Regions from separate parts of the Homo sapiens genome. Here region 1 is linked to region 2. Evidence: fine-mapped expression QTL. A gene starts in region 2. The other region holds a variant in brackets. All regions are shown on one strand. Distances are from middle to middle. Region 1 overlaps UTRN (utrophin). Region 2 holds the start of UTRN (utrophin).

Region 1 (4,396 bases), 330 kb before region 2:
TTTTGACACATTTTGACAAACCCAACCAAATTCCACAGCAACTTCACAAAGATTAATGTACATCTCCAGAAATAAATCACATAGAATAAAAAATGTATTCACCATTGAGAAATTTCACAAGGCACATTAACACCTTTTTCTGTGTAGACACCCAAAAGTTTTAAAGGTAAATTGGGCTTCTCCCATATTCTGGTTTAAGAGGTTGTAAAGTTGTATTCTGCTTCAGTAACTATTCAGCTTCATTCTATAATGAGTTGCATTTCTAGACTGACCAAATTGATAGGCAGAGTCCTCAAAGGATAATGGCATCATTTAAAGTAGAAGGCACTGCTTAAATGCCAAATAATCCTGATGGCATAAAAAACAGCTGTACTTTACTAATGAATATGACATTGTGGTCATACTACTACATATTGATTTAAAAATTAATAATGATAGTCTGGCACAATATTAAAAATGTGTTTATCGACCAATTTGATATGAATTTTGTTGTGCTTATTTAATCACATAGATACCAAATTCATAATATGCTACTAAGACCTCGAGGGAGTCATCTATGACTCTAAACTTACTATGATCACAAAGAAATTATATCTAAAATAATGGGCTATTGCTAAGTGTCAGCAAAATCGAATGATTCTATTTAAAAGATCAAATAGCTTAATCACATCAAAGTTATGCATGGTCAATTTAATCCTTATCTTTAAAAAGGCTCTTGTTGAAAGAATATAAATTCTGATGTGAGGAACATAAAAGTTGTTAAATACTATACCTAAATATATCATTTTAAATATTTGCATGTAAATAAAACATATTTGGTGTGTTCTAACTTTATTTGGCTGTTATTGTTGTGTTTAATGATACAGCACCATGCTTAGCTTTAACTAATATAGCATATAATATAGAGTATTTTAATTTCCAAACTTTAAACAATAATAACAGAGTAAAAGAACTGGGAAAAGGTTATCATTGTGCCAAGTACATAGTAGGCACAAAAATAAATATCTGTCAAATAAATGAATAGCTAGATGGGTAAATAAAATTAAAATGGGGCTCATTTTTTTAAAGTTTCTTGGTTAACTACTGACTACTAAGATTCTTTGAAGCAAATAGATTTTGAAAACCAACTCTAAAGTCTTTTAGCCTGTAACCAAAGTACAGTTAGTGCATGCCTAATAAATAAGCATGTGTTTTGTACATGCCTAGTTAATACATGGAAGATTAAATTCAAATGTCAAGCTAAAGACTGGTTTGTGGCAAAATATTCAAACAAATTGAAGAAATATTTATTAAGGAATACACTCAAGGAAGCACTGTACTTAGTAGTATCATCAATAAAAAGTAAATATAATATTTAAACTTGAAAAAATTTCAGCTGAATAAATTTCCAAATTTAGTGTGGCATTGTAGAGGAGAGGTAAAACCTCCAGTGGATATCCCAAAGCTTCCATTTTCCAATGTATGACAATGACATTAAAAATTATGACCCTAATTATAACTTTCAAATAGTGACAGATGGCTTCTCTGAATGGTCTCTGTACCTTTTAATTTAGTTTGCAAAAAAGATCCATCTGAATTACAATGTAAGTGCATTAACACTCACATGTATTCTCTTTTTAAACACCCAGGTGCAATTTAATCAAAGCAAGCTTTTAGAGAAACAATACAATACAGTCAAAGGAAAGGATTTCTCAATGTTCTGCTAAATCGAGGGATGGCTTTTTTGATTATCTGGAAGAATAGTTGAACTGCCCATTTCAAACAATCCTCCCTGAACTCCCAAGCAAGCTCTGCATGGTACCGAGTGGGTAGCAGTAAATTTGAGATTATGCTCCCCTGCAAGCATACTCCCCGGTAGAACAGTAGCTCTGTGCAGCTTATTCAATGCAAGGTGATCATGCTTCAACAGCTTGGCTATGCAGAGCAAGACTGATGGACATTTACGAAGAGCTGAAAAAAAAGAACACCTTCCTAAAGAGAAGTCCACCTCAACTCTCCTGAAATGATCTGAAGAAGTACAGGGGCCAAGTTCACTCAATGCAATCCCAAGGGCAATCTCCTGCAGTTCATCAACAAAGCATAGCCACAATGACTTTAGACTGGAAGATGTTCAAAGCAAACATAAATCAATACTCATAGTTCTGGTCTCCATAAACATAACCTCAGCAGATCCAGTATTAAGAAATATAACTTGCTGAAGCTGCCAAGAGGAATTTATTGCCAAACGCAAACCTGGATACCAAATTGAGGTGACTTACAGTTACACTACTTTAAATAGAGGAAATATCATGTGAAATCATGATGATGGTTTCAGAATAGTTAATTGATAGCAGGGATTGGATGGGTAGGCCAGTGGGTGATTAAAAACATTCTTAGTTATGTTTCTAAACATATCATTTGTATAATACAGAATGCTTCTCTTTTTGCTCACCAGAGTGATGGTATGGTGGATATAATTCAGCCAAAAGAGGCATCAAATCATTAA[G/T]AACTCACAATGTGCAGACAGATGGAAGACAGAACACATTCCTGACTAATCCCAATGAAAATTATCCACTGATATCTCAAGAAATCATTTCTATTGACCCTGAATGTAACCAACTACAGTATAACAGTATTATGGCACAAGTTCTGCTTGAAAATCAATAATGCAGGGTTTGAATTGAATTCATGGGACTTTATTCAATAATAGATTTCTGCTCACGGATTCAAAGGCAAAGGATAGTCAATAAAGGCCACAAATAGTCTTCCCGTATTCCTAACAGATTTCTACACCAGGTGGTAGAACGCTATGGCGGGCTGGCTGCACTGATGCCCACCTGCGCCTGGAATAGAACCTGGCACAAGAAACACAGGCTCACAATTTATAAGAGCGGAACTGGCATAGAATTCAGAGAGACTGTACAATGAGCCAGTGGGCATAAGATTTGGGGAGACTAAAGAATTCTTTTCTTGAAAAGGAAGTGGTAAGCCATTCTGGGTATTTTTAGAGGCTATTAAATAACTATAATAATATACATAAAAATCAAAGTAAAAGGCTACCAAAGATGTTCACTTTGGTTAATTTTAGATTGTGTGAAATTCACCTTTATTTTTAAAATCTTTTTTAAAAAAGGGCTTTTCAAAAAAAAAAAAAACTATCAGACAAAACACAAATTTCCGAAGTAACCACTGATCCATGAGTGCATAGGAAACAAACTGACTTATATTTGTCATTAGCATTACAAGGCTTGCTACTGCAAATTATAATGGCTTGTAGCTTAATCCAAAGGATTCGCTAACAGTTATTTCTCTCATCTTTATTATACATTTCTATAGATTAAAGGTATCCAACAAATTGTCTTTAAATTCTAGCCACAAACCCTGCTTTATTAAGTAGTTCTTAAGCAATAATGGTAATTATAATTAACTGTGTGAATTATTTAACAATAGTTCAGAATCAATACTTGTTAAATTATTCAAGATTTCACCTGTATGCTGTTAAGGCCCACTGCTTATCTAATTCAGAGTAACTGAATTAAACACAGTATAAAACATTGTACATCCTTAGGGTCCAATGCTACTGCCGAGAAGGAGTTACAACATGGAGATCAGTGAAAACTGTTTCAAGATAATGAGACACTAGTGCAAAGGTCCTGTGGTAGGAAGGCTTGGTATGTACAAGGAAGAGAAAAGAGCCAAATACAGTGGGCCAGGGGACAGGAGTGATGGTTAAAAATTTTTAAAATGTCAGAGAGACAAATGGCCCTGCCTGATCATGTAGGACCTGGTAGGGCAGCGTAAGGGGTTTAGATTTTATTATAAGTGTAATGGGAGCCTTTGGGTTGTTTCAAGCAGAGAACTGACATGACTTGGTTTATGTCATGTTATGTATTTGCTTCCATAACTTATGTTATGTATTTGCTTCAAATACTAGAAGCAAAAACAACACTTAGATGGCTACTCCATTTGTCTGGATAAAATGGCATGGCTTTGATGGATTAACCATGAAAATGAAGAGAGACAGATGATTAAGAATATACTTTGGAGGCAGAGACCAATGTGCTAGCTGAGGTACAACAAATAGGAATACATAGGGTAGGTGAAAAAATGAGCAATCAAGCGTGACTTAGAGTGTTCTGGTTTGAGCTAAAGGATTCAGAAACTAACTGAATGAAAAAGTCCTAAAGGGTATCATATGAGCACAGAGAAACTCCTAGTCCAGGTGTCTAAAGGGAAAGGCAGTGAGATAGGCTTCCCAGGAGAAGTAATGCCTGAGATGGCAACTGAAGTTAGACAAGTGGACTCCTAAAGAAAACAGTCTAAACAGACAGAGGAAATCATATTTATGAAGGCTCAGAATTAAAAGATCATGTCCAATCATTTATGAAACTGAATTAATAGTGATTATGGCCAAGTA
Region 2 (4,396 bases):
GAGGAATTTGAGTACACTTAAGGCAAAGGATGACTCCTTCTAATTGCCAAATGCAGAATCTTTGGTTCTCAGGAGACAGAATCAAAGTTTCACCACGAACAATGCATCCCAGTGTGACCCTCCGTCTTCCACACCTATAAAATGGAGGGAACACCATCTTCACAGAAGGCTAGGTGAGAAACTGAGAATCAATGAATGAGATGTTGCTTTAGAAGCTTCAAGCCCTATACAAATGCAATTTATTGTTACCTCTGCCCTAGATTTCCCTTCCCTCAAATGATATTCTGTAAAAGCCAGATGTTCTTACTGAAACCAATCCAGTCAAGTCGATATTCACTAACTCTCCCTTCAGAACGCTTCCGGCTGTCATATGGACCACCAAGCAAGAGTGTATGAAATAAACATAAGGTGTTTAAAAAATAAACATAAGGTGACAGCCTTAAAGACAAAACTAATGTTTCAATTTTTTAAGATTTTAGGAATTATACAATGAATATATGTATATAATTTTTATTTTGTACTATATTTTATGTATATAGCACATATATATCCAACAGTGTGCATTATGATGGAAATGCTGTGTAATGCAAACACTATTCATTAATTTACTATAGGAACCAAAACCTAGGAACGATTGAGATAGTAGAAAAGGAAGCCAAGCGGACAAGAGTTTGCTGCTCTGCTTGAAACACAGTAAAAGAAAACGGTGAGTGCCAAGAACTGCCATTTACACTCGGAAGCGCTCCAGGGAAGGTTAATACTACTGTGATTAATACTGTTTACAGAGCCAATAAATTTTAGGTAAACACCCAAAGGAGAGTTAAAGAGTTGTCTCATCGGTCCCATAAAGGCTGGTAAAAGGGGCGGGGAATGGTTCCACGCCAACCCTGTCCGTCACCGCAGAACTACCCACAAGCTTCGCATTCCTCCACCTCTCCCCTGACCCTGAGCTATCCGCAGGCTGCGTCTCCCACGCCCACCGCCAACGAACCGGGAGGGCCCAGATCGACTTCCTGAGGCCGGTGCAACTTACAAAGGAATGGATGCGGTCGCTGCCGCCCGGCCGGGCGGCCGGGAGGGTCGGCTCAGACCTAGGGAATCCGGCCTCCCCCGAGCTCCGCGCGCTCTGGCCGCGGCGACCGCTGCACTGACCCTCCCAACCGCGGCAGGGGGAACTGGCCCGCAAGGCCCTGGTGATCCGGCTGACCTGAAGGCTGGGAAAGAGGAGGCCCTGTCCTGAACACCTCAGAGAGCGGGGCCGTGGAGTTAGAACCCGAGCTCTGCAGTTCCTTGTAAAATAAAGTGCTGGTCCCACAGCTCTCTCGGAGGTCGGGCAACGTTTTCTCCCTCCTCCTCGAAAAACGCACTGGAATGAGTCCCTTTCATAATCTGAGGCTTGGAGGAAAAAATCCTTTGAACAACCTGCCATCTGAAAGTTGCACAGCCTTCAATTGGTGCTTTGTTGGTTTTTAAGTGGCCTTGAGCAACCACAGCCTCGGACCCCGGGCCAAAGCGGGGCATGAATTACCTTGTCAGTTGCAGCAAGAGATCCCCAGAGTCCGGAAAAGGAGAGCCGGCGACTGCGCGGGACTACACACCAATGGGGCGCCCCCCTCCTCCTGTCCCCTCAGTCTCTCCAGGGCCGCTGCCAGGGAGCTTGGCGATCGCGCCACACTCTCCGGAGCCCCACCCTTGGGAGCAGCAACCACCCAGAGGTCAAGCACGTTCCCCGCCGGGCGGCTGGCTGGGAAGCGCTCCGCTGGCCGCCGACCACACAGCCACCCTCTGCCCACCCTCTCCTGTGGACACCGCCGGAGCCCCGCCTTCCCCGGGCCCGGGTGTCTGTGACAGACTCTCCTAAGAGGCCACGTCCCCTCTTGCAAATCACTGGCCCAGCGCCCTGCACCGCGCGATGCACGGAGGGCGACTCTGTCACCCCGGCGGGGAGGAAGATTAGGGGAGCAGGGAGGCAGCACAGAGCTGGTCAGATAAGTTTGGATCGTTCACAACTAGTACGGATCCCAAGGACCTCCACGCCCGAGCTCTCCACGCCTCCGGCATTCTCTCTCGCACCGCGGGGAGCTAAACTGAGGCCCCGAGGAAAGGGCACGCAAAAGTTACTCCCATCTTCGACTCTGGGACTTGGGAAGCAGCTCGGGACGCCGATCCCAGGCGGAAGAACCACAGAAAGAGCCATCCTCCTCCCGGCCCCCGCCCCATTCCCTCGGGGGCTGTAGTCACATTACCAGCCCGAGGCTTCAATAATGCATGGGCTTACCTGCTGCCCGCGGGCCTCCTCGCCTGCCGGTCGCCACCGCCGCACCCCGAGCTGGCCAAGGGCTCCTCTAGGAGTTTGACACGGAGTAACCGCGGGGGTGTGTGCGAGTGTTAGTTTGGTGGTGCGATGTATTTAAAAAAAAAAATAAAGCTTGGAGAAGCAGACACGAACCGAAATTTTAAAAAAAGAAAGAAAGAAAGAGAAATTGACACCCGACTGAAAACGCCCCTTACTTGTGCAATCTTCCTGCCTGGTAGTTCCGCCAAAAACAAAACAGTCAAAGCGCAAACCTGGAAGGGGCGCGCAGGCACCAACTTTGCCAAACGCTACAGAGTTTTCCGTTTGCAGAAATGACCCAAAAGAAGGGGGGCGCCGCTCCCCGTGATTCCCCAATCGGCTTCTGGAGCCAGAGGCTCCTCCTCGCCCCTCGGCGGGAGAAAGCCCGCGGCCGGCTGCTGCTGCCCGCTTCCCTGCTCCGAGGAAAAACGACTCCACAACTTTGTGCGCGAGAGAGGCTCGCTCCTTCGGCGGCTCCTCCTCCTCCTCCCCGCTGCGGGCCTGCCCCTTTGTTGGAGCCGAGCGCTGGAGGCGGAGGAGGGAGGGTGGGGCGCAGGACCGCTGGGTCGCGCGTTGCCGCCCCCACCCCCCGGGAAGGGGCTCGCCTCCGGGCAGCCAGGGGTCCGCTCTCCAGATGAGAAGGGTGCAGATCAGCGCCAGCCCTCCGGCCCGCGCCTCTGCAGCGCTCCGGCTCCCCCTCGGCGCTCTCGCCCCGCCGCCGCCGGCCCAGCAACTTTGTTCCGGAAGATCAGCCCCACTACGTTCCCGGGTCAGCGTCTGCCGGGCCTCGGCGGTCACCGCGGCCACCGCGTCGGGAACTTGGCGCCCCAAGTCACCTGACTGCGCGCCCCGTCAATCAGCGCCGGCCCTGCGCGCCCTCCCAGCCCGCAGCAGCCCGGCTCGGCGCTTGGCTGGCCTGGGGCGCGCGCTCCAGAGTGAACCGTGCGTGCCGGGAGCCGGGAGTCCGGAGACCGAACCAGAATGGATGCCTCGAGCAGACACAATTCCCCTTATTCAGATTATCCGAAAATGTGAGTCACGTCCCCTTAGGCAAAACAGGTCTCTAGTTAGGGTGATATTTTTTTAAGAGATAAATTCCAATCTGCCTTCCAACTCACCCCATCTCAGTTTGCTGACGTTGCTGATTTTTTTTTTACCCCTAGTTCCAACCGTATATTTATTTTACATTATTTCTCTAGTGTCGTTGTTAATATTGAAAAAGAAGTTTTCTCTTACATTAGTTTGTATTACAAGTAGTGTTTGCGCTGACCTTATTTTTCTGTTTTCCAATATGCACACACAAACGCACATCTGTTATAGAGCCTGTTCCAAGCTTGAGAGGTTGACCAAAAAATATCTGGGAAGAAATGAGCTCGTGATGTGTGTGCATTTTTCTTATTTACACATTTCATTGCTCGTGTGTTCCTGTGATTCTTTTACACGATCAGCACACGTGGGAGGGGAAAGAAAACAGCAACCTGAGTTCCTAGTTCGTATTAACAGAGAAAAGGATGGTTGATACTGGAGCGCCGGTTTATTGCTGGCTTAATATTTGAGTTAATTTACGCGGCAGTAAAGATTAAACCACTAGGGGCCTTAAACTAATTTTCAGAAAGAGTTTACTCGCCTTTTGTTATAGTGAAAGTTTCCCCCATCCATCCCTAAGTGCTCCAGGGAGGGGGCAGGTAGGAGATTCCCAAAAGAGACTCTTCCTTGTAAGGTTTCTAGGACAGTTTCCTTCCTTTTGATGATTTTCTACGTATAAGCCAAATAAAATCCAAAGGATTAACTTGAAATGGGTATGATTTTATTCATTCACTTCATTCATTCATTTAACAAGCATCAGTTTAGGGCTGTCAGGTTTGCTGGTTCTGTGGGTAAAGCAAAGATAAATCTGATAGTGATCTTACCCTTAAAGAACTTGGAATGTAGTAGGTGAGATAAGACATGTAAACAAGTAAGTATATACAAGATCCGGGAGATAAATGCCATAAGAAAAGAACAGATCAAGTGCTAGCTGAGTATGGTCACATAGAGGGACTCCAGGATTTTTTCTTTCTT

Evidence for each region. PIP is the estimated chance that this variant, and not a neighbour inherited with it, causes the effect.
Region 1: its variant is the best candidate, but not a certain one, in a credible set for the expression of UTRN in whole blood (TOPMed, PIP 0.59).

The regions. Positions count from the first base shown.
Region 1 is chr6:144,615,273-144,619,668 of GRCh38, reverse strand. The region is part of intron 51 of UTRN (utrophin); the gene reads right to left. Among named protein-coding and RNA genes, the nearest start is that of SNORA98, 210 kb to the right of the region's middle. The variant G/T (reference allele first, on the strand shown) is at 2,486.
Region 2 is chr6:144,283,704-144,288,099 of GRCh38, reverse strand. It overlaps UTRN (utrophin), which reads right to left and starts at 2,765. Exons shown (of 75, transcript NM_007124.3): 1 at 2,279-2,765. It overlaps LOC124901418, which reads right to left and starts at 1,602. Exons shown (of 1, transcript XM_047419641.1): 1 at 146-1,602. The coding sequence starts at 1,429. The coding sequence ends at 821. RefSeq lists silencers at 2,826-2,925, 3,136-3,195 and an enhancer at 3,326-3,395.